Linked DNA regions of Homo sapiens. The protein of the gene in region 3 purifies or fractionates together with the protein of the main gene of each other region. This does not show direct contact. Each region holds a gene or a part of one and is shown on either strand. Other genes may lie near its edges. The genes, in order: DET1, STK40 and ETV5.

Region 1 (3,749 bases), on a different chromosome or scaffold from region 3:
TTCCTTTTTTTTTTTTTTTTTTTGAGATGGAGTCTTGCTCTGTTGCCCAGGCTGGAGTGCAGTGGTACAATCTTGACTCACTGCAACCTCTGCCTCCCGGGTTCAAGCAGTTCTCCTGCCTCAGCCTCCTGTGTAGCTGGAGTCCCCGCCACCATGCCCAGCTAATTTTTGTATTTTTAGTAGAGATGGAGTTTCACTATGTTGGCCAGGCTGGTCTCGAACTCCTGACCTTGTGACCTCCCTGCCTCAGCCTCCCAAAGTGCTGGTATTACAGGCGTGAGCCACTGCACCCGGCCAGTTTGTTCCTCTTTTACTTTGTTTAGTGTATTCTTATTCTTCAAGGCTCATACCAATTGTTGCTCCATTAATTATTTTAACATATTTATGAGCGCTTAACTGTCCCTTCTCCTAGGTGCTGGGAATACAGCAAGGAATTAGACCAGTTCCCTGCTCTCTGGTATGGTGGGACAGATACTAAAAAGGTAAACAACTTAATTTCAGGAAGAGATAAAGACCATTAATAATATAGGGTGTATCAGTAAATTCATGTGGGCAGACGTAAGGTGCCTGGGGAAGATTTCTGAGGAGGTACTATTTTAGCTGAGACTTGAATGATGAAACAGAGGCAGATCTTTCAGCACTTAAATAATGTTGTTCCACTTCTTTCTAACTTCCATGGTTTCTGATGAGAAATCTACAGACATTTGAATTGTTGCACCTCTATAGGTGATACGTGGTTTCTATCTGGTTACTTTAGAGGTTTTTACTGTATATCTTTTAGTTTTTTCCATTTTAGCTATGATGTGCCTGGGCATGGATTTCTTTGGATTTATCATATTTGAGGGTCTCTGAACTTCCTGAATTTGGGGGGTCTCTGAACCTTTTGAATTGGAGTTTATATCTTTAGCCAAATTTGGGAAATTTCCTTCCTCCTTCCCTTGCTTCCTTCCTCTCTCCCTTCCTTTCTTCTTTCCTTCCTTTCTTTCATCTTTCTTTTTTTCCCCTTCCTTCCTTTCTTTCTTTCTTTTTTTCTTTCTTTTGACAGAGTCTCACTGCATTGCCCAGGCTGGAGTGCAGTGGCATGATCTCAGCTCACTTCAGCCTCTGCTTCCCAGGCTCAAGTGATCCTCCCACCTCAGCCTCCTGAGTAGCTGTGACTACAAGTGCACACCACTGTGCCCGGCTACTTTTTGTATTTTTAGTAGAGATGGGGTTTTGCCATGATGCCCAGGCTGGTCTTGAACTCCTGGGCTCAAGCAATTTGCCCATCTCAGCCTCCCAAAGTTCTGGGATTATGGATGTGTGCCACCACCACCAACTATTACAGCCATTATTTCTTAATTTTTTTTTTTTTTCTTAGCATTCTACTCCTCAAGATCAGGGTGTTACAACTTTTGATATTTTCCCTAGGGCCCTGAGGCTTTACTGACTTTTTTTCAGTCTTTTTATTTTTTCCCTCTTTTGTTCACATTGGGTAATGTATACTAATCTATCTTCAGGGTGACTGACTCATTTCTCTGATGACTTCATTCTGCCCTTGAGCCCATCAGTGAGTTTTTTATTCTTTTTCAGAATTGTTTTTAAATTTTTAAAAGATATTTTACTAGAGTCTATGGAAGCTAGAAGAGTTTTGTATGCTGGTTATTGCTTTTTCAGCTCTAAACTTCTTATCTGGATCTTTAAGAAATATCTTCTGTTTCTTAGCTGAGACTTTGTTTTTCCATCATTTCAAGAGTGTTTGTGATTACTTATTGGAACATTTTTATAATAGGTACTTCAAAATCTGTCTCAGAGAATTCCAACTTTTGTAGCATCTCAACATTGGTGTCTGTCAATTGTCTTTTCTAGATTGAGTTTTTTCCTAGTACTTCATATGCTGAATGATTTTGGATTGTTTCCTAGACATTTTGAATATTATAAGATGATAGGGCTTGTTTAAATCCTAAGAGGATGTTGGTGATTTTTGGCTTGGTAGGCAATCTACCTAATTAGCTTCAGGGAATTTGCAATTTGTAACTCTCTTTAGGCTATGGTTCTAATGGCAGATGAATTTTCAGAAAGTCTTTGCAGTGCTATTTGGATCTGTCCCATGTATGTGACATTCAGTGGCCAGTCTGCAATCTGGGTGTTGATTATTTCAGTTCTCAAAGCCTTTAGTATGATTTGGACCAGATCCACACGTGTGCAGCTTGGGAGTTCATGAACAACTTCATGATGTTACTTTTCTGAGCTCCTCCCCATCTGATATCTCCCCAGTACCTTCTGGTTCCACTGGGGTCTCCCTTTTGATCCTCTGATGACAAAATTGGGGCTTTAATTATCCTTCCTTGCAACACACTTGCTCTTCAAGCAGCAGGAGAACCAGGGGAGACAATGTTAACCTCACTGCCCATTCAGTGGTACTTTATTGTTAGCCAATTGGTTTTTCTCATATGCCTGTCTTATGCATTCTGTCTAGGTTTTATAGCTGCATTTTTAGTGGGAGAGAGAAGGTGGTGTTTGATTATTCCATCTTATCTGGCAACAGCTTTATAACTTAAGTTTTTCACTAAATGCCGTTGACTTTTATGGCCTGTGATTTAACTTTGATTTGAATCAAGGTATAATAAAACAATTAGAAGACTTTGCCATATAATAGATGCCCCATAAATATTAAAACATATTTTTATTGTGATTTTAAAATAGCCTAACATTTACCGTCTTAACTGATTGTAAGTGTACAGTTCAGTAGTATTAAGTATATTCACATTGTGAAATTGATCTCGAGAAGTTTTTCATCTTGAAAATCTGAAAAGTCTAACCCATTCAACAGCACCTTCTCTTTCCCCTCCTGCTAGTCCCTGGTGACCACCATTCTTCTTTGTTTCTGTGAATTTGATTCCTTTTTCTTTTTTTAATGATAAGTATTTTACATTAATTTTTTTTTTTTTTTTTTTTTTTTAGAGATTGGGTCTTGCTCTGTTGCCCAAGCTAGACTCAAACTCCTGGGCTCAAGTGGTCCACCTCAGCCTCCCAAGTAGCTGGGATTACAGGTGTGTGCTATGGCACCTGGCTGTTAAATTTGATTACGTTTGATACTTCATTTAAGTGGAATCATACAGTATTTGTCTGTTTGTGATTGGCTTATTTGACTTCACATAATGTCCTCAAGTTTCAGTGATGTAGCATATGTCAGAATTTTCTTCCTTTTGAAGGCCGAGTAATATTCCTTTGTGTGTATATACCATATTTTGTTTATCCACTCATCCATCAGTGAACTTTTGGGTTGCTTCCATCTCTTGACTACTATGAATAGCGCTGATATGAACATGGGTGTGCAAATATCTCTTAGAAATCCTGCTTTCAGTTATTTTGGATTTATACCCAGAAGTAGAATTGTTGGATCTTATGGTAGTTCTAATTTTCTTCAAGGAACCTTCATACTGTTTTCCTTAGTAGCTGTACTATTTTTCAGTTCCACCAACAATGCACAAGGGTTCAACTTCCTCTATGTCCTCAATGAAACTTGTCATTTTCTTTTTTTAAAAAAAGCAGTCGTTCTAATGGGTGTGAGGTGATATCCCATTGTAGTTTTGATTTACATTTCTCTGATGATTAGTGATGTTGAGCATCTATCTTTTCATATGCTTTGTGGCCATTTGTATAGGAGAAATGTCTGTTCCAGTACTTTGACCATTTTAAAATTGGGTATATGATTTTTTGTTATTGAGTTATAGGAGTTCTTTATATGTTCTAGATATTAACCCTTT
Region 2 (3,749 bases), on a different chromosome or scaffold from region 3:
ACATAACCCCAGAAGAGGATTTCGAATTTCGATCCTTTTAAAATCCAAAGCGGGGTGAACTTGTTGTTGCAGCTGCCTTGCCAACACCTCCCCCTGTCTGCTCCTTGAGAGCTCTCTGCTCTGCTGAGAAGGCCTCCAGCTGGTCCGCCTACTGCTCCAGTGGAGTTATAGCCTGGCATGATGGGTGGGAAGGGGCTGGAGTGGGCTGGAGCTCCTTCAGGTCAACTGAACGAGGTGAGAGTGGGGCCCCAGAGCGGAGGGTGTGCCAGAGGACACACACGGAGCAGTGAGTCTCTCTGCACCACACTACCCTGCCACTCTGGAGCGCCCATGACTCAAGTAAAAGGCAGCCAGAACCTCTGTCTGCCCTGAGACACAAAAAGGGGGATTTATCAGATTCAGGAAGTACAACCAGGACACTGGGTATGAGTGAGGCATTGGCATTCTGCACCCTGAGGAGCACGCACTCACACTCACAGCAGAGCTGCTACAGCCACGCCGGCGTATGCAGGGAGGTGCGACCCCTCGACTACACTCCCAGGACCAAGGGGCCCTGGGGAAGTGAGAGTTGGAAGCAAATCCCCCAGTGACACAAAGGGCCAGGAGTGCTGGTGTGGTTAGCAGGCATGAGCCCGGCAAGTTCCCATGACAACCCTGGGATGTTCATTTACAGCCAATGAATGGCTGCTGTGGAAGGTCTGGGAGCTCTCTAGTCCAGCTGGAGGGCACATGGGCTCTGCAGCCAGATGGATTTAGGTGCCCAAAAAATATGCTCTCTCTTTGTGAACAGTAAGCCTGTAGTCCACAGCAGGATGGGACTGGCCCAAGGCCCCAGAGAGGGCCAGGGGAAGGGGCAGGACCCAATTTCCCAACTTTATGACAACTGGCTCTCCACAGCCCAGGGCTGGTTTGCTCGGGGCTCCCCACCACCTCCTCTCATGATGCAGAGCTATGGCTGGGGGACCGCTGGGCCCTCACCAGGGGTGTCCTCGTTGGCCACTCAACATGCAGCAGGCCTCATCTCCAGAGATGTGAGCCCATGGGTCCTGTTCTCCTGTCTCTCAGCGACAGGCTCTCCAGTCCTGGCTACATTAGCACTGGGGTGTGCCCGTGATGCGCCAAACCCCATCATATTACGCAGCCTCACACCCACTGATTTGCATCTCAGGCCAATCTTCCCAGGAAGCCAGGATGACCTTCACTTTCACAGATGAGGAAATGGAAGCTCAGAGAAGTGCTTGGTACCTCAATATATGAATTCAATCAGTAAGTACCCAGAGGACCACACTCTCACGGTCTCCAAGATAACGAAGAAGTGGCACTGGGAAGTGAGCCAGGTCTGACCCCCATGTCAGTGCTGCTTCCGTCCTCCTCAACTCACTCACTCAGCCAGTCCAGGGTTCAAGCAGCTCTGGAATTTCCTGTTTCCCTCCCTTCCCCCTGCAGAGCATAGCAGGGCAAGGTTCTCATCCCTTCACTTTCTCAGCCTGGCAAATCCCAACTCATCCTTCACGAATTGACTCAGGTGGCAGCCACTGTCCCTCCACATGTCCCTTGCCCTCTGCACGCCAGTCCTCCACACATGATACCATCTTCTGGTCAGTACACCATCAGATGGTGGGCTCCAGAGGGTAGTGGGAACCACTGAGCGTTTCTGTCTGCAGCCCCAGCACCAGGTGGTGCTAGTCGAAGGATGGAGAATGCTTAGCAGCTGAGGTGCACAGCATCGTCCCGATGGCCTCTCAGGCTGGAGCTATGGGATCTGGAACCCCCAGCAGTAATTCCCCATCAGTTGAGATGGGGCACAAGGCAATGCCCCCTCCCCGGAGGCCAACCTCCAGGCAGCTTCTTTTCCTCTGACCACTGTGGCTTTGGCCTCTTTAGAGGACAGTGGGCCTCGGGCCCTTCCTGGGCTGGGCTGGCCACATCATGGAATGAATCACCCACCACAACACTTCTGCTGTGAGATTCAGGCTGCCTTTGTAAGCCCTTCAACCTGCTCAATGCCGAGTTGAGAGGTGACAGAGGGGAGCTCAGAAATAATGGGTGGGGGCGGAGTGGGGGAGATGTGCCCTTCTCAGCCCTGCATTTCAAGGATCATGGTAGCCCACAGAGTGGGCCCACTTCCTGCTGGTCCTGGGTTCCTACATGGTTGGTGGTCCCTCTAACATGGTGAGACAGTGGTAGCACTGTCCCAGATCACTCCAAAGAGGCCCAGGACCCTCTGTCGAGGCGGGATGACAACCTGAAACCAGGGCCGTGCTTGGTGTCCCTCTGCTGCTGGTTCACCCCAACAAGGGTGGGCCGCCAGATCCCCTCCAAGTCTAAGGCATGCTCTCCTTGCTGCTGAGAGAGCTGGTGGCATTTTACAGGTAACCACTCACAGCTGCATCCCTCTCCAGGAGGCCCTCTTAGCCAAAAGAAGCTGCCTTGCCTAAGAGAATGCCCCTCCCTAAGGACAGCAGACATTCAGTGACTGATTGCTGTGGGGGCACAAAGGCCAAGCGCGGGCCATCTGCAGGCCATCCCACTCTCGAGTTTTTCAGGCTGAGGCCCTGCTGGGACTTCACTGCGGTTCAGCTTCTCCCTCTGCCTAATTCCACCCCCTCACCCTGAGAGCACTTCACAGTAAACCTTCTGCACGTAAACCTCAGAGTCTGTTTCCTGAGGAAATTGACCTATGGCAAGGCATCATTTTGCTCGTTCCTTCACCCCATTTGTCCATTCAAAAAATATATATATTTTTGTAGAGATGGGGTCTTCATTATGTTGCCCAGGCTGGTCTCAAACTCCTGGGCTCAAGTGATCCTCCCGCCTCAGCCTCCCAAAGTGCTGGGATTACAGGCGGGAGCCACCGCACCTGACCATTTAGTCCATTTTTATAGTAATTTTATGAGTACCCACTAGGAGCCAGGTGTGACAAATAAATGGACAAGGGAGATCTAAAGTTCTTCCCAGAGCTCCCTTTCTGTGGCTCAAAACTCCCAGTCTCAGCAAGCCCCCAATTCCCATGTTCATCCCATCCCGAGCCCTGGGATTCCTGGAGGAAGTGGGTTGTTTTGAGTCGGAATCCTCATGAGGACACTTCAGGGCACTGGAGAGTTGCAATGTGTAGCCTGCCCCAGCCCCGGGGTAACTGTATGGATGTAGAGACAGGGATCTTACCTCTTGTTGAGCACCATGTTCCCCAGCTTCAGGTCTCTGTGCACGATATTTTTCTGTAAAACAACAGGCGTATGGTTTACATTGTCAATGTGAGAGGTGGGGTCAGGGCCCACCCTGTAAGATGGGGGCTCTCCAGGTGTTCGAGAAGGCAGGAAAAATTCTATGATGTGTCTCTTTAGGCTCCAAGCACAGGCAGATCAGGACAGTTCTAAGTTCGCGTGACCTGCGCGTCTGGATGGGGAATGAATGTGCACCTAGTCAGTGTCTCCCCATCTGTGGCAGCTTCTTTAGCTCTTTCTCCCCTCAGGGCAGTGGCTGGTGGCGAAAGTCACTCATTTTTTCCCCTCCATTAGACATTCCATGGACAGGATGGATCTGGGGGTCGGGGAGGAGCTGTCATGGCTTTGTGACTAAGTACCACAGGCTCGGCCCACAGAAGCGGCACACCGGGAAGAGGCTCAGGCTCTCCTATCCTTTGTCCCAGCGTGCCTGACACCTCTAATCCTACAAAAAGCTCAGATGTGCTGTAGTTGCTTGGGTGGGTATCTCACTGTCATCACTACATGGGGGTGGACACCAGGCCT
Region 3 (3,749 bases):
GTGGGCGGATCACCTGAGGTCAGGAGTTCAAGACCAGCCTGGCAAACATGGTGAAGCCCCGTCTCTACTAAAAATACAAAAATTAGCCAGGCATGGTGGCAGGTGCCTGTAATCCCAGCTACTCGGGAGGCTTAGGCAGGAGAATTGCTCGAACCTGGGACGTGGACATCCCAGTAAGTGGGCCGAGATTGCGCCATTGCACTCTGGCCTGGGTGACGAGCAAAACTCTCTCTCCAAAAAAAAAAAAAAAAAAAAAGGTTTGCTTTCCCCTGGCAAATCTAAGTTTGGCTTATATTCATTGGTTAAGTGAGTCAAACCAACTCATAAGGTTTCATTAAATTTGAATGAGTTTTCTTCCCTCCCCTGAAAAAAATCACGAGCTCTTCCAGAAAATGACTGGAGTGAAGCTGGTCCTGAACTCGAGGCTGTGGAAAGCGCTCATGGAAAAGTAAGTGCATGCAGCCGGCTGTGGGCTCTGCCAGCTCCTCCTCATGCTTCTGGCTGTTGGTCTGAACTGCAGGCAAACAAACTTGCTTTTGCAAGAATGAATGGCTCAAAGATGCACCACCCACATTTGTGTTCTTGCCTTGCTTCTTAAGCAAGTTATTCTATTTGAATCTATCCCTTCTTGAAGCTCTACCTCAAGAAATAAAGTCAGAGGGAAAGAATCATTAGAAGACCTTTTCTAGGCTAGTCAACCATCTCTTTTATCCTTAAAAGACAGAAAGGCTCAACCTTAGGCAGTTAAAACAAAAAGTAAGCAAAGTAAAAAAAACATCATACTTGGTAAGCAGAAACATCTCCCAAATTACCTCCACTTGAGGTATGGAATTTTAATTAAAGAACTTAGCACATTCTATTTGCTGAGCAGAAATTATTTCTAAAGAGCCAAAACACATTTATTGATTTCTTCACTTTAGCCTATTCCCACAGATAAATATCTCTCCAAATATAAATCCTGCTTGCTGACAAAGAACATACCCTTGCTTCAGCACATGCAATCAATTTGAATGCAGCCATCTCATCTCCCTTTTAACTCTTTTGGGTTACAGAGAAACAAACAAAAGTGTCATAAAAGCATTTCAAAGAACCTCTGCCAAGAAAGCCACCTCCCAAACAGACTGCAGTTTATGCTGCTCTGAGCAAGAACTGGAAAGGCTGGGCCAAATTGTCAACACAGAACAAAGTTGGATTACAAACCCTGTCTTTCATCTTGCAAACACACACACACACACACACACACACACACACACACACACACACACACACTTGGATTATCTTTATTTAGTCTTTCAGTGGCAAGCTTCCCAATCACTCGAAAGCAATCAAAGGGCAATAATTAACATGCATTTACTCTCCCATAGAACACATCCACAGCAAGCTGTGACAAAGCTAAGGTAACCATGCATGTGTGTGTTCCAGTTTATTCCCTTTTACAGTTTCATGGCATTGTGCCTTGGACATGAGGCCTATCATTAAGGAATGTTTAGCTGTTACCTCTGCTCTTACATTTAAAAGATTTGGAATACCCAACTTTTTACTTAGAGAGAGACCTAAGATACTCTCTCTCCAGTGGCATTTTTACACACATACACCCACCTACCCAGAGATAAAACAAAGCTGGGAAGAATCTGTTGGTCCAAAATGAGAAATTGAGTCCTTGCATGGCTCAGGTGCTTGCTATTATAAACTATGACTAAGAGACATGAATTTCTCTATGATGCAACTCTCAAGAGAGGCAGCATTTTCTCCAGGCCTCTCTTAAACCTGCTCATTCGCCAGTGACTAATGCTCTCTAGAGCAGCCCTGTGCTGCTCAAATTTCATCAGCCGGCTTTGTCCTTCATAACTCTGCCTAGACCATAAAAGCTCCCAAACCTGTTGAGGACAGCCCCAAAAGATCAGTGCAAAGTAACCATGCCCCTGCCAGTGTTGAAAGCCATCTTTTGAGCTTCCCACTGCATTTTCTCTCTAGTAATGAGCACTTAGTGGCCATTTTAAGAAAAAGTTTCTCTTCTCTGAAGAGAAAAGCCACAGCAACTACACGAAAAGTAAGAGTAAATCAGGCCACTCTGTGACCACCCCTTGTCAGCTTAGGGGTAGAGACAAAATTGACAACATGTTGGATGAAGCCAAAGTTAACTGGAGTTTTCCATTAACTATTTTCTGCACCTTTAAGAAAAAGAGAAATATCAGGTTCATGATTCACATCAAGGACTTAATTTATAAAACAAACCCCAAAAAAGCCATAAAACAATGTGTGATTAATAGATGCTTGGCCTAACACCAAATATATTTTGTCAGTTAATTTATAATTTTGAGCTTAAAGCTTTGCAATATTCTTTTTTTTTTTTTTTTTGAGATGGAGTCTTGCTCTGTTGCCCAGGCTGGAGTGCAGTGATGCGATCTCAGCTCACTGCAACCTCCGCCTTCTGGATTTAAGTGATTCTCCTGCCTCAGCCTCCTGAGTAGCTTGGATTACAGGCGCCCACCACCACACCTGGCTAATTTTTGTATTTTTAGTAGAGACGGGGTTTCACCATATTGGCCAGGCTGGTCTTGAATGCCTGACCTCAAGTGATCCACCTGCCTCAGCCTCCCAAAGCCCTGGGATTATAGGTGTGAGCCACTGTGCCCAGTCAGCTTTACAATATTCTTAAGGTAAAAAGAAATTTAGGATAAAATTATGTTCAGTAAATCTTACCTGCAATACAGTAGAAATACTTTAGAAATAATTTTATTATGAAATAAAAGTTTTCAGGGTTAATTCTGAATTATTAGAAGAAACTAAATGCATACTACTGTCTAAATCTGGCCATAGCTGAAAAAAGCATATTCTAGACATGGATGATCTAAGACCAAACAATTTCAGAACAAATGTGCCATCACCAGAAAGGTACTTACGGTTATCAGACTGAAAATCTGGGACAAACTGTTCATCATCAGGAACTTGTGCTGGAAAATAGATTTTTATTTTAGACCTTTAAGTTTTATTAAAAAGCACAGTAAAATGTTTTATATGGAAAATAGGACATCCATGAAACTTGCCTTCAGCTAACCAAGCCTCTTGAAGTTGACTGAGATCCTGAAATAGCTCTGAAATTGAAAAAGAAGACCCCAGAATGAGGATATTTCTTTCGCTAGGGAGAAGACAGGGAAGAATCTACACGCTACTGTCACTGGGAGCAGGGAAGCCACAACATAATCAGGGAAAGCTTTACTACCTTCAGAATCGTGAGCCAGATCTGTGTCCAAAAACTTCCTCTTTCTGTCAATCACAGGCCGCCCTCTGCATTCCTCAGATCGAGATTTCTGAAAGAGGCCAACAGAAAGTGAAGGCTCAAGTGTAGTAAAGAGGTCCACAGGGGGAAGACTCATATTGGAGAGGGAGGACAAAACAAACCAAAAGCCACATAAACTTACCCCTGGGACCATAAAAGGGACTTGCTGATCATAAAACCCGTCCATGGTGCTTTCAGCGTCTCTAATACCACTTTGAGAGGTTTCAGCATTGAGTAATTTCTGGGGGAAAAGGGATCCTCCTGTAATATGAATTTGGGAGATTTTAACTAAGAGGGGGGAAAAAAAGAAATGAAACAATTTTAGACTGCCTTTTTTTTAGGGCCTGTGCAAAATTATTACCCTTCTGTGAAGTACTTAAAACCTACTCAAGGTGCAAGCTTTACACACCAATGCCGGGCTTGATTAATGGTATCAGAGGTACAGGATGTACTCCGTGCCAAATCCATT

Evidence for each region.
Region 1: the proteins of ETV5 (region 3) and DET1 purify together in Homo sapiens (affinity purification with mass spectrometry; 3 studies listed by BioGRID and IntAct, with this or other methods). This does not show direct contact.
Region 2: the proteins of ETV5 (region 3) and STK40 purify together in Homo sapiens (affinity purification with mass spectrometry; 3 studies listed by BioGRID and IntAct, with this or other methods). This does not show direct contact.

Annotation. Positions count from the first base shown.
Region 1 is NC_000015.10:88,533,045-88,536,793, reverse strand, and holds part of DET1 (DET1 homolog), read left to right. Parts: intron 1-412; exon of another isoform or gene 413-459; coding exon of another isoform or gene 460-482; intron 483-3,749. UniProt on the Homo sapiens protein: Component of the E3 ubiquitin ligase DCX DET1-COP1 complex, which is required for ubiquitination and subsequent degradation of target proteins. The complex is involved in JUN ubiquitination and degradation.
Region 2 is NC_000001.11:36,351,199-36,354,947, forward strand, and holds part of STK40 (serine/threonine-protein kinase 40), read right to left. Parts: intron 3,219-3,749; coding exon 3,166-3,218; intron 1-3,165. UniProt on the Homo sapiens protein: May be a negative regulator of NF-kappa-B and p53-mediated gene transcription.
Region 3 is NC_000003.12:186,102,402-186,106,150, forward strand, and holds part of ETV5 (ETS translocation variant 5), read right to left. Parts: intron 3,542-3,749; 5' UTR 3,468-3,541; coding exon 3,423-3,467; intron 3,312-3,422; coding exon 3,224-3,311; intron 3,096-3,223; coding exon 3,048-3,095; intron 2,955-3,047; coding exon 2,904-2,954; intron 1-2,903. UniProt on the Homo sapiens protein: Binds to DNA sequences containing the consensus nucleotide core sequence 5'-GGAA.-3'.